Linked DNA regions of Homo sapiens. The protein of the gene in region 1 interacts with the protein of each later gene in a biochemical or structural test. Each region holds a gene or a part of one and is shown on either strand. Other genes may lie near its edges. The genes, in order: SERINC1 and PAX8.

The links.
Region 2: the proteins of SERINC1 (region 1) and PAX8 form a complex in vitro, tested with the Homo sapiens proteins (one study listed by BioGRID).

What each region holds. Positions count from the first base shown.
Region 1 is NC_000006.12:122,454,808-122,465,967, reverse strand, and holds part of SERINC1 (serine incorporator 1), read left to right. Parts: intron 1-7,286; coding exon 7,287-7,448; intron 7,449-9,317; coding exon 9,318-9,487; intron 9,488-11,160.
Region 2 is NC_000002.12:113,232,586-113,243,745, reverse strand, and holds part of PAX8 (paired box protein Pax-8), read left to right. Parts: intron 1-967; coding exon 968-1,056; intron 1,057-1,615; coding exon 1,616-1,738; intron 1,739-2,019; coding exon 2,020-2,195; intron 2,196-2,903; exon of another isoform or gene 2,904-4,657; intron 4,658-5,533; exon of another isoform or gene 5,534-5,656; intron 5,657-7,024; coding exon 7,025-7,145; exon of another isoform or gene 7,146-7,477; intron 7,478-8,163; coding exon 8,164-8,352; intron 8,353-11,160. UniProt on the Homo sapiens protein: Transcription factor for the thyroid-specific expression of the genes exclusively expressed in the thyroid cell type, maintaining the functional differentiation of such cells.

The DNA.
Region 1 (11,160 bases):
CACCGTTCCTGGCCTCTGTTCCATTTTTATAGCATCCTGTGGTTGTTTCATGGAAGCAAGCTTTCTCCCTTTTTAAAAAAATCTTTATTTTTATCTTTATGATATACCCTGTACTATATAGTTTATTAATATACTCTGTAAGTATATTAAAAATACCAAATTTTTTATGCTTTTATGTCTGCCTATAATTTCTTTTCAAGTTTCTCCTATCCACTCCTCCCACTTTCATTGATCTTAGTGTTTTCCGGAGTATTCAGTGGTCAGTAGCTATTTGTTCATATTTAGGAGTGGGACACTCAAGAGCTTGGTGTAGGACTTGTCAGCTGTGACTACCGTGAAGTGATCTGGCTCAACCAGTTTATTGTGGAAGCCTAATGCAGATATTTATCTAGGGCTATTGATAGATCCAGGGTACACTTCCAGTCTCCAACCTGGGGAATATACCTGCATTCTGGAAGGCAAGTGACGGAAAGAATGATGAGGTTCTTCACATTCAGTACATAAAATTTGACTTAATTTTATGTTTTTAGTATGGAACCCCTTCTGTCAACTCTACTTGGTGTTTCCCTGTCAAACCTCATGTTTTATTCTTTCAGGTGACTAGTGCAAGAAATGGAATGAAATCTGGGAGTCTTAACTGCTCTTTGGAAAGACATTCAACCAATCATCTATTTTTACTATACCTTTAGTGTCACTTACAGAGACTCCTGGTGCCACCAGTTCCTGAACTATTTGGGGATTCTGCCAAATGAATTGTGTTGCTCGTTAACTTTTTCCTTTGATAACTTAGAATTCAGCTTTCTCTGTTAAGGTTGTTACTACTTCGTAGTTTCTACTTCCTAGATTTGTTCTGGGAAGAACAAAACAAAAGAACTAGAACAAAAGATCTAGTTCTTTTTGACTTTTACATTTTATTCTTTCTTTTTTAAAGAAAAAAAACCCCAAACCTTTATTTTTTATTTTATTGGGATTTCTAGAGTGAACATAGGTAAATTAATATATTCAGTCTGCCATCTTTAACTAGAAGCACTTTGTACTATTATTTTTATGTTGCCATTATCTTATACCCTAGAAACATTGACTGGGGGCATTCTATGTTTTAATAAGCCCTCCAGGTAATTCTGGTAGTTGTTACAGTTTGAGAACCAGTGCTCTAAACTTAAGTGGATGCAAAGCTCTCTACCAGTCCTTGGCTTACCATTGCTTTGCTCTAATTTTTTATTTTAATGTCATCTCCTAATTGACCACATTTTGTCATCAGTAGATTTTTCAAAAAGGATTTATTGGTGCCGGAATCTCTAAGTTCTTTGGTTTTTGAAAGTGCCTGCTAAATTCTTGAGAGACATTTTGGACTGGTATAATATAGTATACGAATTTCCTTCAGAACTTTGTAGTTATTTCTCTTTCGTATTCTGTCTTATATCAGCCTGGTTTCCACACCGTCCCTCTGCACGTGCATAGGTGGTTTGTTTCCTCTGCCTGAGTAGCTGAAGAGTTTTTGTTTATCTTAGAAATTAAATAACCAGATAAGTCTGAGTTTAAATCTTTTATCACTTTTTTTCCCCTTCTCAAAAAGTAGTGTGCTCTTTTGATGCACAGATTATTTTTCCATCTAAGGAATTTTTCTTATATTAGATCTGTGAATATCCTTTAATTCATTTATTTAGAGGATTCTCTATTTTAAGGACTTTTTTTAGTTAAGGTATAATTTACATACAGTAGAATTTACTCTTTGTAATATACAGTTCCATGAGTTTTGACAAATGCATCTCTAGTCGTGTAACCGTTTTGGAACATCGATCATCCTAAAAAATTGCACTGTCCTGTCCTTGGCAACCCCTATTTTCTGTCTTTAGGATTTTGCCTTTCTAGAGTGTCATATTAATGGAATCCTACAATATATAGTCTTTGAGTCTGGCTTCTTTTACTTAGCACATAATGAGTTTCATTCTCCGTATGTTTTTATTGTTGAATATTGTTTTTGTTTGGATGTACCACAATTTATCCATTCACCATTTGAGGAGCCTTTCTAGGTTTTGATGATTACAAATAAAGTAGCTATAAGCATTCCCATCAAGGTTTTTTTGTGTAATTATAAGTTCTTATTTCACTTGAATAAATATCTGAGTGTGGATTTGCTTATTCATACAGTAAGTGCATGTTTGATTTAAAAATAAGAAACAGTCAAACTGGTTTCCAAAATGGTTGTACCATTTTTCATTCCCGCCACCAAAGTAAGAGAGTTCTAGTTGCTCTGCATTCTTGTCAGTAGTTGGTATCATCAGTTTATTTCATTTTAGCCGTTCTAATATGCATGCAGTAGTATCTCTGATTTTAATGTACATTTCCCTAATAATGATATTGAGCACTTTTTCTTTGCTTATTTGCTGTCTATATGCCTTTTATTAAAGTATCTGTTTAAATATTTTGCCCATTTTTAATTGAGTTGTTTGTTTTCTTATCACTGAGTTTTTAGAGTTCTTTTTATATTCTGGATGCCGATGATTTATCATGTACCTCACTTGCAAGTATTTTCAAGTTTATGGCTTGCTTTTTCATTCTCAGCAGTGTGTTTCAAAGAGCAAAAGTTCTTAATTTTGATGAAGCCCAATTCATTTGTTTTTCTTTTGTGAGTCCTGTTTTTTATATGGTATCTAGGAAATCTTAATTCTCATATATGGTTTGATTATGGCTTAAGGTTAACTTTCTAAAAAATGTATGAATATCCAATTATTTCAGCAACATCTGTTAAAAAGATTATCCTTTCCATAGTGAATTGCTTTGGTATCTTTGTCAAAAATCCTTTGATTATATTTGCATGAATCTATTTCTGAACTTTATTGTGTTCTACTTAGTGTGTCCACCCTTTTCCCTATATCACTCTGTTTTAATTACTGTCACTTTAATGCTAGTCTTGAAATCAGGTAGTGTGTCTTTTAACTTTGTTCTTTTTTCAGACTTGTTTGAGCTATTCTGGTGTTTTTTGCCTGTTCAGCTAGTTTATTTCTGTAAATCTGATGTTGGGATTGTGATTGGAATTGGGCTGAATCTATAGATAAGTTTGGAAAGACCTGATATCTTGAAAATAATTGTCTTCCAACTATGAACTCTGTATATTTTGCCATTCATTTAGGTCTTTGATTTCTTTCACCAATGTTTTGTAGTTTTCATTATTTGAGATCTTGTCTATGTTTTGTTAGATTTATAACTATTTTCTTTTTGTTTTCAGTTATTACTAATACGTAGAAACATGATTGTGTATATTGACTTTTTATCATGTGACCTTATTAAACCGATGAGTTAGTTCTAGTTGCATTTTTGTAGGTTCTTTGTGGGGTATTTTTATTGTTTTTATTTGTTTTGTTTTGTTGTCATCCAGACTCGAGTGCAGTGGCGCTATCATTGAACTCCTTGAACTCCTAGGCTCAAATGGTCCTCCTGCCTCAGCTTCCCAAATTGCTGGGATTACAGGTGTGAGCCATGGTGTATGGCCCTCTTTGGGATTTTCTATATAGACAGTTGTGTTATATGTGAAGAGGGCAGTTTCGTGTCTTCCATTCCAATTTTTATGTTTTATTTTCTTTCTTGCCTCATTATATTGGCTGGGACCTCCAGTGTGAAGTTGAATTCAAATGGTGAGAGAGGTATTTTGCCTTGTTTGATGTCTTACAGGGAAAGCATTCAGACTTTCGTCATTAATTATGGGTGAGAGCTATAGGTATTTGTAAATGCCATTTATCAAGTTAAGGATGTTATCTTCTATTCTTTGCTGACAGTTTATATCATGAATAGGTATTGAATTTTGTCAAATGGTTTTTCTGTATCTATTGAGATGACCTTGTTTTTTTTCTTTAGTCTGTTTATACAGTAGAGGTCATTGGTTGATTTTTAAAAGTGGAACCAGCCTTGCTTTTCCAGGCTAAACTCTACCTGGTGGCAATATATTATCCTTTTTATATACTTTCATATTGCTGTTTTTGACTTGCTAAAATATCATTAAGAATTTTTTTGTGTATGTTTATGAGGGATATCGGTCTATTATTTTCTTATGATGTCTTTGGATTTAGTCTCTGTAATTCTGGCCCATTTTTTTAAATAAGAAGAATATGTCTCTTTCATATTCCTTTGTATGCAAATCCAAATTTCTCTCTGGTATAATTTTCTTTCTTGGAGGATTTCCTTCAACATTTCTGGTAGTTTAATTCTGCTTGTTTGGATTATTTTGTCTTTTCTATTCCTGAAAATGTCTTTATTTTGCCTTAATTTTTGGAAGATATTTTCACTGAGTATAAAATTCTTTTTTTTTTTTATTATACTTTAAGTTTTAGGGTACATGTGCACATTGTGCAGGTTAGTTACATATGTATACATGTGCCATGCTGGTGCGCTGCACCCACTAACTCGTCATCTAGCATTAGGTATATCTCCCAATGCTATCCCTCCCCCCTCCCCCAACCCCACCACAGTCCCCAGAGTATGATATTCCCCTTCCTGTGTCCATGTGATCTCACTGTTCAATTCACACCTATCAGTGAGAATATGCGTACAAAATTCTATGTTTACATATTTTTTTCTTTCGGTACTGATTTTAGGCTTGAACCGTTTCTTACTAGAAGTGTGATTTATTTCTTTGTTCCTCAGTTTATAATGTACATTTTATTTTTCTGCCTACTTTTAAGATTTTTCTGATTATTACTTTTTTAAGTAATTTGATTATGATGTGACTTGGTGTGGTTTTCATGTTTATTTTGCTAGGGCTTTGTTGAGTTTCCTGGATCTGTGAGTTTATCGTTTTCATAAATTTGGAAAAATTTGGGCAATTACTTCCTCAGAAGCACCTTTGTGTCACTTCTCTCCAATTGAAGTTCATTTCAGGGACTCTAATTTCACTTATATTAGGCTATTTAAAGTTGTCTCACAATGTTCTGATCCTTTTCTTATTTTTATCTCTCTTTCATTTTGGATCATTTATTTTCTTATGTCTTCAGGTTCATTATTAATCTTTTCTTCTGTCTTGTCAATATTTAGGGGGCTTATTTTATCATCTGGAGAAGTATGATATGGGTCTTAATTTTAAATTATCTTCCATGTCTGTCCGTAACATTATCAAGTTTTCCTCTACTTCCTTGAGCATGTGATATATACTTAACAGTAATACTACAATGCCCTATTTATAAATGAACTCAGTTATCTATATCATTTCCAGGTTGATATTGACTGATTGATCCTCATTATAGGTTGTATTTTTCTGGTTTTTGCATGCCTGCTAATTTTTTGTTAGCTTTCCAGTGTAAATTTTTCCTTGATCAGCGCTGGATATACTTTTATTTTCAAAAAAATATTCTTGGGCTTTTATCTTTGACTTGGGTGATTTTACTTAGAGACAGTGTGATCTTTTTATTTGCCTTTAGGTTTCGTTAAGTGCAACTAGTGCAGCCTTTAGTTTGATGGCTGATTTTTCTCCAGTATTAATTGCCTTCTGATATCTTTACCCAATGCCTCATGGATTACAAAGTTTTTCACCTCTGGGTGGTAAAATTCTCAGACCCTCCCTGCAGTGAACATTCTCCCTAGGCAGAAATAAGGGCCACTTGGCTGGGCGCGGTGGGCCACACCTGTAATCCCAGCACTTTGGGAGGCCGAGGTAGGCGGATCACCTGAGGTCAGGAGACCAGCCTGGCCAACATGGTGAAACCCTGTCTACTAAAACTACAAAAAAATACAAAAATTAGCCGGGTGTGGTGGTGCACGCCTGCAATCCCAGCTACTCAGGAGGCTGAGGCAGGAAAATCCCTTGAACCCGGAGTGGGTGGGGGAAGGTTGCAGTGAGCTGAGATCGCACCACTGCACTCCAGCCTGGGTGACAGAAGGAGACTGTGTAAATCAATCAATTAATCAATAAAATAAGGGCCAGTCATAGGGCTCACATTGTCTCCTCTTAGAAATTGCTGGCTTTACATTGCCTGTTGTTCATTGTCTGAAAAACTTATTTTTTCCATTGTTTAAGTCAGGAGGATAAGTCTGGTCATGGTTTCTCCATCTTGACCTGAATTTATAGTAATTATCCCAAGCCTTTTTTCATCAGTAATTTTATGTTTACCTATGTCTGTTTTGTTTCTTGATAGTTACTAGTTAAGTCCGTTTTTTCCCTTCTCATTTCTTTAGCCCTTTGATTTCCACTTTCCATTGTGTTCTGTTCTTACTTCATTTTTGAGGTCTCCTTTTTTAACAAAAAATATTTTTTATTTTTCTGTAGCTCAAATGAAATACTGGTAGGGGATTTCCTTTTCTTACTGGATTATATTTATTTCAGACTGAATTCTTCATATGCCTTATATTTTCTTCATTCCTTTTTCTGAGGGGAGATGTTTATGTTTAACTTTTGCTAAAGTATATTTACATAGTTGCCATGACATGTATTTCCGTTTTGTGGACGTTTAATATAAAGCAGCTTTATTCTTACCTTATATTGGTTGGTGTAGTGGTCTGGCTTCTACAACATTCCCTTACTGTGATATCTAAGACTCTTTTCCCCTAGAGCTGTAATTCTAGGGCTGGAAGATCTGGTTCATCCACCTTCTAGAAGTCTGACATCTCAGCCCAGGTTATGATATTATGAGAATATTTACTCTGTGGCTTTCTTAGATACTGTTAAATACTCTGTACCAGTGTTCCTCTCTCCTAGACAGGAAGATATTCTGTTCCCTTGGGGGCATACTGCTAGTTTAGTGTGGTGGTTACTGGAGAAAAGCTAGCCCCAGTTGTATTATTATCCTTTTTGCCTCACTCTAGTTGTAGTTTTCATTATTATCACTATCGCCAGGTCAAAAGAAGGAAAATATATCAATTCACTTTTTTTTCCCTCCCTGGATGTATTTGAGAATCCTCGGAATTTTTTGTATTCATCAGTCTAGTATCTGGGGGCTAAAGGTCAGGGGCTGGAGGTGGGCTTAGCAGCTGTGCTACTCATGAATATTCCATTTCTTTTCCTCTTTAAACTTTGGTTACTGCTGATGATTTTTTCCCCTTTTTGTTTTAGCTGATTTGTCCGTTTTACTTGGCATAGAGTCCAAGGATTTTTTTTGTCTTTACTCCTTCTTAGAAGTTGCTAAGTTTTGTGGTATATAGATAATTTATATGAACCAAATACCGTATGTCCCTTGATGTAATTACTTTTAGTCTTTTTTCTTTTTTAACAGATAGAATGTCAATTTTCATTGTATCATTTTAAGATATAGTGATTTACTGATTCTTAATAATATTTTCAATAATATTCTTTTTCCCAGATACCATGTTTGTGTGGAAGTGCCCCGTGTTTGCTATGCCGATGCTGTCCTAGTGGAAACAACTCCACTGTAACTAGATTGATCTATGCACTTTTCTTGCTTGTTGGAGTATGTGTAGCTTGTGTAATGTTGATACCAGGAATGGAAGAACAACTGAATAAGGTTAGTCTCGTTTCTTATTTATTGATTAACTGAGGCTATAGGGTATATATGTATATGTATAAAATTGATTCGGGGATATTGTAAACAGAATAATATAGAATAAGACAGTATGTAATCCTAGTTGTAGTTCATAATCTTTTAGGAAAAAGATAATATACATTAGTTTGTTAAGTTCTATGATGGTGGTACAGGAAATGTACTGTGGTAATACACAGAAAGAAGTATAATTCTAACCAGGTGTCAGAATCTCAATGGGTCATGGAAAAAAGGATGTTCTAAGAATGATTAGAACTTGCATATACAGAGATTGAAAAATAGAAAGCATAATGAGTATAAAAGAGCTTTTCAAGCAAAGTATCTATACTTTAGGAAGATTAATCTTACAATTAATAAAGTATAAAAGTCAAGCAGTTAAATATGGAGGCTGTTGCAGTGGTATAATCAAGAAGAGAATAGCGGACCTGAAATAAGATTTTCTGGATGTAAAATTGACTGAGCCTAGCACTGAAATATTGGCAGTGATATGGAATCATAAATAACAACCAGGTTCTGGTCCTACAAAACCGGGAGGAAAGTATTGCTATTAACCTAGAAAGGAAAATTTTTAGAGAGAGTCAGGTTGTGGAAGGAGATTGGGAACACATAATAAATTTAGTTTCTAACATGTTGACTTGGTGGTATTGTATCGTGTACATGTATATATATATATATATATGTATGTCTTACTCAGTTCAGGCTGCTATAACAAGAATATCATAGGCTGGGTGGCTTAAGACAACAAAAATTTATTTCTCAGTTTTGGAGGCTGAAAGTCCGAGATCAGGGTGCCACCATGGTCAAGTTCTGATGAGGATCTTATTCCTGGTTTACACATGGCCATCTTACATTTTTGAAAGAAAGCAGCAGCTCTCTTCTGTCTGTTTTTATAAGGGCATTAATCCCATCCTGAGGGCTCTACCCTCATGATTTAATTACCACATAAAGGCCCTATCTCCCACTATCCTCCCATTGAGGGTTAGAGTTTCAGCATTTAATTTTGGGTAGACACAAACACGAAGTCCATAATAATATACAGCAGTAAGTAGAAAACATGAAGGAATTTAAAAGAGAAATCAGAGCTAGAGACTGCCTTGAGGATAGAAATTGAATGTTGAAACCATGGCAGCGTATGCTGAAGATCATTCAGAGTGAGCAGAGCTAGAACTCTGCCAAAATCTCTTACTTAAGGGAGTTAGTGGAGAAAGGAAAACCTGATTCTGATCCTAGAAAACTGGGAGGGAAGGGATAACAGAAAAGAACAAAGAAAATGTATAGGTTCTAGGAAGAAAGTTTTAAGAATGACAGGGATAGTGTCTATATAAAAATGAGATTAAGGAATGTGATTAAGCAGTAGCCTTTGGGTTTGGAAACCAGTACATGACTAGTATCCTGGAAAAGCAGTTTTTTTAGAGTGCTGGGACTGGAAAGAGTGGGAGGAAATAATTTATTCTTATATATATGAATAATAGATGTATTAATAGTTCTGAACAGTAGTCTCAGAAATAGCACTTACACTACTAAAACAAGTCTATCGTGCTATTCAAGTAGAATGCAAGTTTTTAAAATGTAGGATAAATCTATAACTCAAAATAAGCAACCAGCATAGAGTTGGTATTGTAGTTTATGATTTGCGCAGATGGGGATTTAACTCTTTTTTCCCCACTGTATGTGATTAAAATGTATCAGACTCATCTTGAGTACATATTCATCATAAATTGTAAAGCAAATGCCAGTTTTCTAAACCTTTACTTAAACTATTTGATTACATGTAATTTTTATTTTTACTTAATGAAAAAAAATGATGGATCATAAACTCTTTTGTTTTTCTAGATTCCTGGATTTTGTGAGAATGAGAAAGGTGTTGTCCCTTGTAACATTTTGGTTGGCTATAAAGCTGTATATCGTTTGTGCTTTGGTTTGGCTATGTTCTATCTTCTTCTCTCTTTACTAATGATCAAAGTGAAGAGTAGCAGTGATCCTAGAGCTGCAGTGCACAATGGGTAAGTTTTTAAATAAGCTTCAATATAAAAGCTTGGGTAGCCTCTTCTTGATAATTGCCAGTTTATCCAAGGAAACTTTAAGGTAAAATAAACTTATACAATTTGCAGAATTACTTTATTCATGAATGACAGGATAAGAAAATCTTGTTTTTACTGGAGAATGTCAGACTTTGGATATTAAATAATAGCTGTGATAACCTCTGATCCACAGTGTTTTATATTTTCATACTAAAAAAGAGGCTCTATTATATTTGTGACTACTAAGGGAATAGCTATTTCTCCTTCTACTGTTAACTTTAGGTGGACCAGTCCACTTACATAGAACTCTCAGTTCCCTAGACCCAGAGAGCAGATTTTTCTAGGTTGGTTGTATTGGACAACCCAGAAAGAAACTTCAGGGTTTCTTTTATCAATCTTCCTTCATATAGAGCACTACTTCTGGTACCCTTATTTGACTGTTTTAATATCTGCTGTTGCTTATCTAGTTATATGTGCTACCAAAGACAAAAAGTATAAACAAGTAGAATATAAATATTAATGAGAAAATATGTGACGGGTTGCTTTTCCTTTATTTTGTTCCTTTGGTCATTGATTATTTTATTAAATTATTAGAGTTTTAGATGGAGGCATTTATCATGTGTTTATAAAAACTATTCATTTATACAGTTCACCTTATACTTTGATACATTATCCCACTTATGTGAAATAAGCCTGTGAAATGGAACTAACATTCTCATTTTTCCATAATGAATTAGTGAGAAATACATCTTTCTCAAAATGGTCTTAAAAGCAGTTTATGTAATTGTTGTTTTTTCTGATAATCAAGTGTATTAGGGTTCTCTAGAGGGACAGAACTAATAGGATAGATAGATATATATAAAGGGGAGTTTATTAAGTATTATCTCACATGATCTCAAGGTCCCACAATAGGCCATCTGCAAGCTGAGGAGCAAGGAGAGCCAGTCCTAGTCCCAAAACTGAAGAACTTGGAGCCTGATGTTCAAGGGCAGGGAGCATCCAGCACAGGAGAAAGATGTAGGCTGGGATGCTAGGCCAGTCTAGTCTTTTCACTTTTTTTTTTTGCCTGCTTTATATTCTAGCCCTGCTGGCAGCTGATTAGATGGTGCCCACCCAGATTAAGGGTGTGTCTGCCTTTCCCAGCCCACTGACTGAAATGTTAATCTTCTTTGGCAACACCCTCACAGACACACCCAGCATCAGTACTTTGCACCCTTCAATCCAATCAAGTTGACACTCAGTATTAACCATTACAAGTCAGTACTTTGCATCCTTGAATTCAATTGACACTCAGTATAACTATCAGAAGTCTACCCATTGTCAACTTGAACCCGTATACATCTCCTGAGATCATACATAATCTGCAAATAAAGACAATAATAAGGTCATACAACTAACCTTACAACTGAAAACGCACCAGTCCCCAACCAAAATACTAATTACATAAAGTTAACAATACTTAAATGCTGATGTGAAGTCAGTAAATCTTATGTCACATGATAAAGGAGAATGGAAATAAAATGAAGATATTTTCTTAGTACAAGTATATGCATGCATGAACATGTTTTTGACAAAACAAGGAGGAAGTACTCACAACAATTACAGCCCTCGTTTCTGCAGCTGGACATGTGGTCATAGCTGGTATTGATGACTGC
Region 2 (11,160 bases), on another chromosome or scaffold:
GACAGTTATGCAAAGGCCCTGTGGCTAATAGGATCAAAAGAAAACCAGTAGATAGGCCAGGTGCAGTGGCTCATGCCTGTAATCCCAGCACTTTGGGAGGCCAAGGCAGGTGGATCACCTGAGATCAGGCGTTCGAGACCAACCTGGCCAACATGGTGAAACCCCATCTCTTCTAAAAATGCAAAAATTAACTGGGTGTGGTGGCGAGTGCCTGTAATCCTAGCTACTTGGGAGACTGAAGCAGGAAAACCACTTGAACATGGGAGGCAGAGGTTGCAGTGAGCTGAGATCACGCCACTGGACTCCAGCCTGGGCGACAAGAGCAAGACTCTATCTCAAAAAAAAAAAGAAAGAAAGAAAAGAAAACCAGTAGATAAAGAGCAGGGGAGCACAAGGTAGGCTGAAGTTGAAGATGTCAGCAGAGGTGACCTTTCAGAGGCTGGGGGCTGTGTTATATCTTCTTGCCTTTGGTCATAAAGCAATGGGAAACCCTTGGCAGATTTTAAGCCAACTTGCATTTCAGAAAGTCCACTCTGGCTGCAGTAGGGAGAATCACTTAGAAAGGGCCAAGAGGGGATGGGCGTGGGCCACTGAGTGACCCTGGAACACTGGTGATGACATGCACTAAGGTGCTGATGGAGAGACGCAGAGAGGGGTCAACGTTGGCAAGGTTCACAAGGTCAAAACACAGAACTTGATGATGGGTTTGATAGGAAAGAGAGGGAAGCAGAGGTTAAGCCCCATCTCTGTTTTGGCCTTGAGTGACTGATGGTACCAATCATGAAATGCGGACAACTGAGGAGGACTAGGCATGCGGAGTAGGGTCACAGACTTGACTGTGGACAGTTGAGTTTCAAGTGCCTTGGAGATACCCAAAAGGGGTGTCAAAAAGGCGACTGGGTCTGGGGCAGCCATGAGTTCTCTTTCCTCCTCTTCTCTCTCATGGCCTTTCTTCTCTTCATCACAGAATCATCCGGACCAAAGTGCAGCAACCATTCAACCTCCCTATGGACAGCTGCGTGGCCACCAAGTCCCTGAGTCCCGGACACACGCTGAGTGAGTGCTGAGAGACCTGGATACACACACATGCTCGTGTACACCTCCCCTTCAGCATACCCACATATACACAGAGGCACACACAGACACACCCACACAGACATAGCTGTGCACAGTACCATTCACAAACCCATGTGTAGACTGAGTTGTGCCACTGCGACGAAGTCTGGCCTGTTCCCAGGGCAGATTCACTGAACTATGGAGAGGTGCAAACACTTGAGACAGCTCTAACTCCAAGAATCCCTCCCACCAGGAGGCCCCCTGGAGGAAGGACCTGAGCCCCTCCAGGGCTCAGTCCATGGTTCGGCTTGCTGCCTCCTGCACAGTGTCAGCAGGGACTGTGAGGGGTGTCACTCTCACTCCCTGACCCTCTCCCTCTTCCCACCACCGCAGTCCCCCCAGAGTCACCCCAGGGCTGTAAGGGGTGTCCCACCCCTTGCTCCTCTCCCTCTCCCCCAGCCCCTGCAGTCCCCAGCTCAACTGTAACTACCCCAGAGTCACCCAGGGCTGTGAGGGGTGTCACTCCCACCCCTGACCCTCTCCCTCTCCCCCACTGCAGTCCCCAGCTCAGCTGTAACTCCCCCGGAGTCACCCCAGTCGGATTCCCTGGGCTCCACCTACTCCATCAATGGGCTCCTGGGCATCGCTCAGCCTGGCAGCGACAAGAGGAAAATGGATGACAGTGAGTGCTGGGACAGGAGGGCAGCGGGCGGTGCACGAGAGCAGTTTGCTCAGGCTTTGATGGGGACAGAAACCCTTCCACTTATGATATGGGACTTTGTAGGGGCTCTGCATGTGACTGTCACATGTCCTGTCCCTCAGTTGGCCAAGGCTCCTGGGCCCACGTGGCTGGCCCTTTTTCTCCCTCCACAGTGAGTCAGCTTGGAGTCAGTCCTCTACTTTGGCCTAGAGCATGAATAGATAGGTCCCCTAAAAGCTTTCTTCCTTCCCGGGGGGTACCAGGTGATCAGGATAGCTGCCGACTAAGCATTGACTCACAGAGCAGCAGCAGCGGACCCCGAAAGCACCTTCGCACGGATGCCTTCAGCCAGCACCACCTCGAGCCGCTCGAGTGCCCATTTGAGCGGCAGCACTACCCAGAGGCCTATGCCTCCCCCAGCCACACCAAAGGCGAGCAGGTGAGAAGCTGGGCCCTGGGAGGTGAACAGGGTGGGCAAGGGCCAGAGAAGGTCTATTCTCCAAATGAGCCTGTGCTCCATCAAAGCAGCTGGAAGTTGCATCAATGGGCTCAGGGCACCTGCCTTATGCAACTCCAAGCCTGACACATGCTTTATTTTACCAGATGCCCTGGCATCTTCCTCCCTTTCTAACCCTCCTGGCTTCCTTCACCCAAAACCTTTGAGCCTGGGCCTTTCAGGGATGGCAGCACAACCTGATGATGCTATCCCTTGCCATCAGCGTCTTTCCCAGATTGCAACATCACGTTCCACAACTCTGAAGCAGTAGCACAAAGCCTTCACATAATGACCTCAGCCACTATTTCCTAGCCCCACCTTTGGCCACTCATCCTGCACACCCCATGCTCTTGCATTACTCATGGCCCCGAGCTCACCACCCTCGCTCACACCTCTCTGCCCTTGCACACTGTGTGCCCTCCACACAGAATGCCTTTCCTCCCACTTCTCTGCATGGAAAAATACCACTAGCCTTCATGACTCAGCCAAACATCACCCTCTCCGTCAGTCCTCCCCTGCCCCTCCGACATGAATCATCTCTCCTGCCTCTTGCCCTTCTGCATGTCCCACATGCTGCTCTCAGTAGCTTCTCACAGTGTCACTTAATAATCTAGCAGACAGACAGGTACAAAGACACGCGGACTCCTTAAGGACAGGGAAGCCTCATGAAACGTTAAACATCGTTTTTATTCCCAGCACCTACCATTGTGCCCCCCTTATAATAGACAGTAATGGTATAGTGAATGAATGAACAAATGAATGAGTTGAGAAATCCAGAATAATACATCACAAGCTACAGCGAATTTTTCTTGCTAGTGCTCAGGACAGGTGAAATGAATCATAACAGGTTGGTGTCCGTGAAAAGCTGACAGAGATGTGAGAGGTCCCACCCTGAGGCCAACAAAGACTCTGCAGCTCTGGCAGAACCACTAAGCTCTCAGCTCCTAGTCATCACATCTTTTTCCCTTAACCCTGCCAAGTCAACCAGATGAGGAGTGTCTTCAGGGTGGGTCTGTTGCCCCTCTTTGCCCATGCCGTCATTTGCTGTAGGAGTGAGGCAAGTCCATATGCCTTTAAGAACCGAGTAGGACAATGGAGATGATGCCAATAATCAGCCCAACCACTTCCAGTGACCGTCTGGGCTGCTGGTCCCGTGCCAGCACTCGCAGCTGGGCAGGCAATCTGCATCAGCAATTTTATCAGCGTTGACTGTGGCAACCACGAGCGTGCAGAGAAAGCTGACCATCAGCAGCATGGGGAGAGGGCCTGGGGTGCTCACGCACCAGTCAGCACACAGCTCCAGGAAGGAAAGGGGTTGCAGTGGGGGGCCTGCAGGAAGCTCACTCTGTGAGAGTAAGCCTGCAAAACTCAGTGTGCAGGCACCAGCCACTCAGTGAAAGTAAAGAAACCCTGCTGATGAGACTCTGGACACCCGCTGAGTCCCAGAGCCATTTCCTGGCTCCATCCCTAAGCCCCCCAAAGGACCCTGCTTGACTACAGAGCACCCCCATGCCATGCTGGCATATGAACATGGGGAATCCTGGAATGAGAAAGTCTTTGAGCTTTCAGGGACCTCCATGACCACCTTGTCCAGTTTCTCCATTTGTGTGGAGATAATCCAAGCAAGACAAGGAGGGCTTGGGCAATCAGAAGGTTTTGGAGCTCAGGCCTGCCAACCCTCATTTCATTCAGACTGGTCCACTGTCACCTGTTTCAGATATGGTGCTTCTACGTAAACACTTATTTGAAGACTGAAAAAAAAAGCATTTGAAAACCATTAAACTTCTCCAACCACTCATCTTTCAGATGAGGAGACTGAGGTCCAGCAGTGTCCATAAATTATTCATTACCTCCTCAGTCAATCATTATTCACCCAGTCATTCACCTGGAGGGTGGTGAAGGCAGGGAGAACCAGCCAGTGCAAGGGCCCCTCATGTCCTGCCTGGCCTTTGCTTTTCCTACCTCTGGTAACTGACTGTGCTGCCAAAGTAACACTCCGTGCTCTCTCACCTGGGCATAGGAATGCCCTCTGGCTTGGGGAGCCAAGAAAGAAGCACAAGTATTCATACCTGACCTTAGGACAGGTTGTAACACAGCTATCTTTTCTGCAAAATCAACAAGTGGGGGACCAGGCATGGTGGCTCACACCTGTAGTCCCAGCACTTTGGGAGGCCAAGGTGGATGGGTCACCTGAGGTCAGGAGTTTGAGACCAGCCTGGCCAACAAGGCAAAATCCCATCTCTACTAAAAATATAAAAATTAGCCAGGCCTGGTGGCGTGCACCTGTAATCCTAGCTACTCGGGAGGCTGAGACAGGAGAATCGCTTGAAGCTGGGGGGCGGAGGTTGCAGTGACCCGAGATTGTGCCACTGCACTCCAGCCTGGGTGACAGAGCGAGGCTCCATCTGAAAAAAAAAAAAAAAGGGCAGGGGGAAGTGTTCATCAGAAACATCATGTGGCCTTATTCCTGGTTGCTATTTCATGACCAGACATAGCTAGAAGTCATACAGCTCTTGTTTCCCTATTTTACAAATGCATCAAAAAAAATCAACAGAATATGAATATCAGTTTATTGACAGAAATCAAGAATTTGGTGGCTTCTGACTCTTCACGATTCTGAAATAATATCTGTGATAACTCTCATTGGGCATCTGCTGTCACCAAGTATTCGGTGCTAAGCACATTATGTATAAGTATACAAAATTTCATGTAATGCTTACGTCAGCCTCATAAAGTAGAGTCTATGATTCCCATACAGGTGAGAAAATTAAGGTTCAGAGCAGTCAAGTAGACTAAAGCTACTTGGCAGGTCATTGCAGAACCAGGGCTCAGAGTCGCTGAAGTTCTGAAGCATTGTGCTGCTCTGCCCCGATTCAAGTTCAATTCCAGCTAAAAAGCCCAATAATCACTGGGAAGTTTCAGTCATTGAATACAAAATCACCAAAAGATTTGACTATATAGGTTTTCTTTTTCCTTTTTTTCTAAGTTACTTGGATTTTGAAATAGCTATAGGATTCTGAGTAGATATTTTGCTGTCAAAACAACACATCCATAAAGCATTTTAAACTTCTCTTATACGCTCTAGAAATTAGGTATTTTGTTCAATTTCAATAAGACACACCCTGGCCAGGTGCAACGGCTCATGCCTGTAATCCCAACACTTTGGGAGGTCAAGCCAGGCAGATCATGAGGTCAGGAGTTTAAGACTAGCCTGGCCAACATGGTGAAACTCCTGTCTCTACTAAAGATACAAAAAATTAGCCTGGCATGGTAGCACGCACCTGTAATCCCTGCTACTCGGGAGGCTGAGGCAGGGGAATCACTTGAACCCAGGAAGCAGAGGTTGCAGTAAGCGAAGATCGCACCATTGCACTCCAGCTTGGGCAACAAGAGCAAAACTCCGTCTACAAAAAAAAAAAAAAAAAAAGGCCCTAAGCAACTCCACCCTGCCTCTAAGTGGGCCCCCTTGGAAGGCATGGAACCAGAGCACCATTTAGTCAATAATTGCTGCTATGTGCTAATGGTGCCCTGGTGGCCTCCAGAATTGACTGCAGCTTCCAAAAGTGCCCAGCATGCAACCGGAAAGTGCTGTGGATCTTTGCAGAACCCAGCTCGATGGAAATCACTGAAAACAATTGCCTTTAGTGGCACTGTTATGTAACTACTGAGCATTCCCTGAATTCAGCTTTGCACATCTCACGTAGCAGGTATGTGACGAGTGTGAAGGTATGTGGGGAATGGGTGTGTTCTTTTTTCTGCGCTATCTGCTTCCCCAGTGGAAGGAGGCCATGGTGAGGATGAGGTACACTTACCTTTAGTTAAACAAGTTCTTTTCGGAAGGAGTACCTAAGGTCATAGCTGTGCTCCTGGGAAGGGGAGGCCAGGAGGCATCTAAAATGAGGTCTTACTGATGAAGACCCCCAGGTACTTGACAAAGAGTGTTTCCAACAAAAACAACTCTCAATACCATTTTCAAGCCGAACTTGCACACTTCTATTTGTTTGGATGTGGAGAGAGAAAAGAAGAAATCCACGTGGTGGGTAAAGCACCTGGGTCCACAGCCGAAAAATCCCGGGTTTAGTCTGTTTCACTATACAAAATTGGGCCATTTACCTGAGTTCCAGGCTCCACATATAAAACACAGACATAATATTACTCACCCATGTCACTGGGCTGCTGGGGGACTCTACTAGGACAACAGAGGCAAAGCTCTGATATAAGCTCTTTGCAAATGTAAGAAGTGGTCCTTATGTCACCCAGTTTAGGGCAGTGGTTGAGAGCAGACACATTCTGATCCCTCGAATCTGAATCCTATCTTTGGCCCATCTGGAAGTGGGACAAGTTTCTTAAACCTTTGTGCCTGGGTTTCCTATCTGGGGAAGAATAAATTAACAGATGCAAGGACCCTGAACAGTCCGGTTGGAGACTGCTCCAGTCCTTGGCACCGTCCTGCATTCTGTGGGTCCCAACAGTGTGGTGAAACCAGGAAGCCGACCAGCCATCCAACCAGGGTGTGGTCCTCTGGCTGAGACTCTCTATCCCACGTCTGGGCACCCATGCTACCAGCTGGCCTTGAATTCCAGGGATGCGGGAGGACAATGAGCATGAACGAAACGTGCCGAGTGGAGTTGAGAACGTAAAGGAAGAAGGGGGCGATGAGGACCTCTCCTGGGGAGATGAGGGCTGCCAAGTCCTAAGACACAGGCTCAGGGTCTGCAGGAAGGTCGGCTTGTTGGATCGTCTCTGTGCGCTGACTTCTCTTTGCTCCCCAGGGCCTCTACCCGCTGCCCTTGCTCAACAGCACCCTGGACGACGGGAAGGCCACCCTGACCCCTTCCAACACGCCACTGGGGCGCAACCTCTCGACTCACCAGACCTACCCCGTGGTGGCAGGTACAACGCCCGGAGCCTCCCTGGCAGGTGGAGGGCGGGGGACTGAAGAGCTTGGCTGGCTGTCAGGCGGAAGGTGTGGGGCCCTGGCCTGGAGAGGAGAGGCGGGCTGTGCCGGCCGGGCCGCCAGGTGGGCCCAGGGGTCGCGCCTCCGGTCCTAGGCCGGGCCTCAAGGTGGGCCGAGGGGTCGCGCCTCCAGTCCTAGGCCGGGCCTCAAGGTGGGCCCAGGGGTCGCGCCTCCGGTCCTAGGCCGGGCCTCAAGGTGGGCCGAGGGGTCGCGCCTCCAGTCCTAGGCCGGGCCTCAAGGTGGGCCGAGGGGTCGCGCCTCCGGTCCTAGGCCGGGCCTCAAGCTGGGCCGAGGGGTCGCGCCTCCGGCCCTAGGCGGCTCCCGTAAGGTGGGCCGAGGGGTCGCGCCTCCAGTCCTAGGCCGGGCCTCAAGGTGGGCCCAGGGGTCGCGCCTCCGGTCCTAGGCCGGGCCTCAAGGTGGGCCGAGGGGTCGCGCCTCCGGTCCTAGGCGGCTCCCGCAAGGTGGGCCGAGGGGTCGCGCCTCCGGTCCTAGGCCGGGCCTCAAGCTGGGCCGAGGGGTCGCGCCTCCGGTCCTAGGCGGCTCCCGCAAGGTGGGCCGAGGGGTCGCGCCTCCAGTCCTAGGCCGGGCCTCAAGGTGGGCCCAGGGGTCGCGCCTCCGGTCCTAGGCCGGGCCTCAAGGTGGGCCGAGGGGTCGCGCCTCCGGTCCTAGGCCGCTCCCGGGTCTCCGCGCTCCCTCCTGTGGGAGAGGCGGGCGCACACACGCCTTCCGGGTCTCTCCATTTTCGCTGCAGAAGCGCAGCAGGGAGGTCTAGCTTCTCTCTCCCCGCCTTGCCACGCCTCGTGGGCCCCGGCTCTCCCCAGCCCAGACTCTGAGGGCAGCTGAGCCTGCCCCGCGCCCCGCCCGCACCCTCCACATCCCACGGCTTGGCTTGTGCGTGTTCCCTCCCCGCCATCTCACACCCCTCTCTCCTTGTTGTCTCCCTCCCTCCGGCAGATCCTCACTCACCCTTCGCCATAAAGCAGGAAACCCCCGAGGTGTCCAGTTCTAGCTCCACCCCTTCCTCTTTATCTAGCTCCGCCTTTTTGGATCTGCAGCAAGTCGGCTCCGGGGTCCCGCCCTTCAATGCCTTTCCCCATGCTGCCTCCGTGTACGGGCAGTTCACGGGCCAGGCCCTCCTCTCAGGTACGACAGGGAGGTCCCGGGGCCATGCAGCTATGGCGGCGGGTGGGACGGGGGTCCTCAGGGCAGACCGCCAGCCCCCTCTCTGGCCTCAGTCTCATCCACCCCCACCCTGTTCCCTAATTCCTCCGGCAACTTTTGGAGGCGCCAACATGAAGTTCTCTGTGACGGGGAAGACATGCTCGGAAGGGGCGGATGCTGTAGGGGTGCCGGGGATGCACCACCCCAAGACCCCATGGAAAAGCAGGAACCCTAAGGCCGGGAGCCGGGTGCTGTAACGTAGCAACTTGGCCTTGGTAAATGCATAAATAGATAGAAGGAAAAATGAACATTTTGGAGGGAAAAAGGAATTGGCTTTTGGAGCCCATTTCTGGATCAAATTTCTAAAAAGGCCAAGGGTCAGTCCCAGTTGTGTTTCCATGATGCAGCTATCTTCATTCCTAGCTTAACAGCATCACCGGGAGGACAGTCAGACATCTGTTAAACATGATAAATTCAGTGATTCAACAACTTGAGAGGAGTGGGGGACCTCCCATCAGGAACCTCAACTGCCTCAAAATATTTAAAGCTGGAAGCACCGACCGGGCGAGGTGGCTCACCCCTGTAATTCCAGCAGTTTGGGAGGCCGAGGCAGGTGGATCACAAGGTCAAGAGTTCAAGACCAGCCTGGCCAAGATGATGAAACCCCATCTCTACTAAAATTCAAAAAATTAGGGGGTGTGGTGGCAGACACCTGTAATCCCAGCTACTGGGGAGGCCGAGGCAGGAGAATCGCTTGAACCCAGGAGGCATAGGTTGCAGTGAGCTGAGGTGGCGCCATGGCACTCCAGCCTGGGTGACAGAGCAAGACTCCATCTCAAAAAAGAAAAAAACAAATAAATAAAAATAAGTAAATCTGGAAGCACCTGAGGGAGCCTCTAGATCAAACCTCTTATGCTGATGAGGAACCTGGCCCAGGGAGGAGAAGGTCCCTGCCAAGGTCTCTGGGCAGGAGCACCATCTGTAGCTGGTTGAGGCCTGGGCCTGCACTGCATGAGTCAGACCTCAAGGGGAGCTGGCTCCTCCTGGCAGAAGGACCTTCGCTCATCCAGCCAGGGCCTGAGGAATGGCTGAGAGTCAAGCGCTTGGCTTGGGTTGGAGAGGGCCTGAGATGCAGTGAAAGTGGGAAGCAGAGACCCATATGGTCTTCAGATACCTCAAGGGCTTCCACAGGGATAGGACTATTTTAGATGTGGGCCCAGTGGGGGCCCAGGACCAGGGAAGGAAGCCAGCTAGCTCTCAGTTCAGCATTGGAGGAATCTCTTTAATAGCGGCACTGTCTCCAAGGAGTGTGGGTATTTAGTGACAGAAGTAAATGCCTCTTCACCTCCCACACCCTCCTACCCCGACGACCTTGAAATGCTGGAGCAGAGACCAGTGCGTGGGTGGGGTGTGTGAGACCTGTCACAGAGGCAGCCCAGAGTCAGACAGTCCATCTGGACCAGTGGTTTCAAATTTGGGCCTCTCAATGCTCTCTTGAAATGAAGCCTTTTACAGAAGACATGTATGCTCACCAGACCCCTGAAGAACTGCTCTTTTAGAAGGGGTCCCTGCCCCTAGAAAGCCCTTGGACTTCGAAACCACTGCACCAGAGGATTAAGACCTCTACAAGCCCAGAGTAACCACAGGGTCATGTGATAAAAGTCCCTGGACCCTTTTTTTTTTGTTTTTTTGTTTTTTGAGATGGAATCTCACTCTGTTGCCCAGGTTGGAGTGCAGTGGCGCGATCTCAGCTCACTGCAACCTCCACCTCCTGGGTTCAAGTGATTCTCCTGCCTCAGCCTCCCGAGTAGCTAGAACTACAAATGGGCGCCACTACACCCGGCTAATTTTTGTATTTTCAGTAGAGATGGGGTTTCACCATGTTAGCCAGAATGGTCTCAATCTCCTGACCTTGGTCCGCCCACCTTGGCCTCCCAAAGTGCTGGGGTTACAGGTGTGAGCCACTGCACCCAGCCCATGGACCCTTTTTTATAACTGGCTCTACATTTTCTTTCTGGCTGGCACCCGGGTTTTTTTTTTTTTTTCCTCCGTACATCCCAGCACCTAATGTGAGAAGTTTCCTTAGAAGAGAGGGACATCCAGTGTGTGGGCAGAGAGATGGTGTTTAAGGGTCTAAAGCGAGGAGTTGACTTGGAGTTCAAGAATTCAAGAGGGTGAAGGCAGCAGAGATGGGTCATTTGTTTTGACCAAAGTGATGAAAAGAGCAAAACCTGTGAGCTGAGTAAAATTATGTCAGCCAGAGAAAATGGGATGCGGGGTAGGGAGGGGAATGAGAGGATAGTGGAGAGGAAGGGAGGGGAAGGGAAGGGAGGGGAGGGGAGGGGAGGGGAGGGGGTGAGGAGAAGAGGTTCATGTCAGTTACAGGGAGTTACGCAAGCCTGCATGTCTTCTGAGAATGGCAGGCTAGAGCTGGCGGCGGTCATGGGGCAGGCAAGGGGTGAGGGTGTGGTGGTGCCCATGATGATGGGGAGCAGGTGCTGTGGAAGCCGCGGAGAAGCTTGGCAAGACCAGCTGAAGGAGAGGGAAGGATGTAGGGCAGCTGGAAGTGGATAGATGTATCAGAGTGCAGACATAGGCTGTAGTGTAAAGTGCAACTGGAACAGCCCAGGGCAAACTCCCTACTCCCAAAGCCCCTACACTTTGTCCCCTCCCTGTCATCCTGTTAGCATCCCCTGTCAACATGCAGTCAATCAGAGGTGACGCCTCCAACTACTGTCAGCTGTTAATTTAGTGGACATGCCCACTCTCCAGGCCAACTGCAGGACTGAG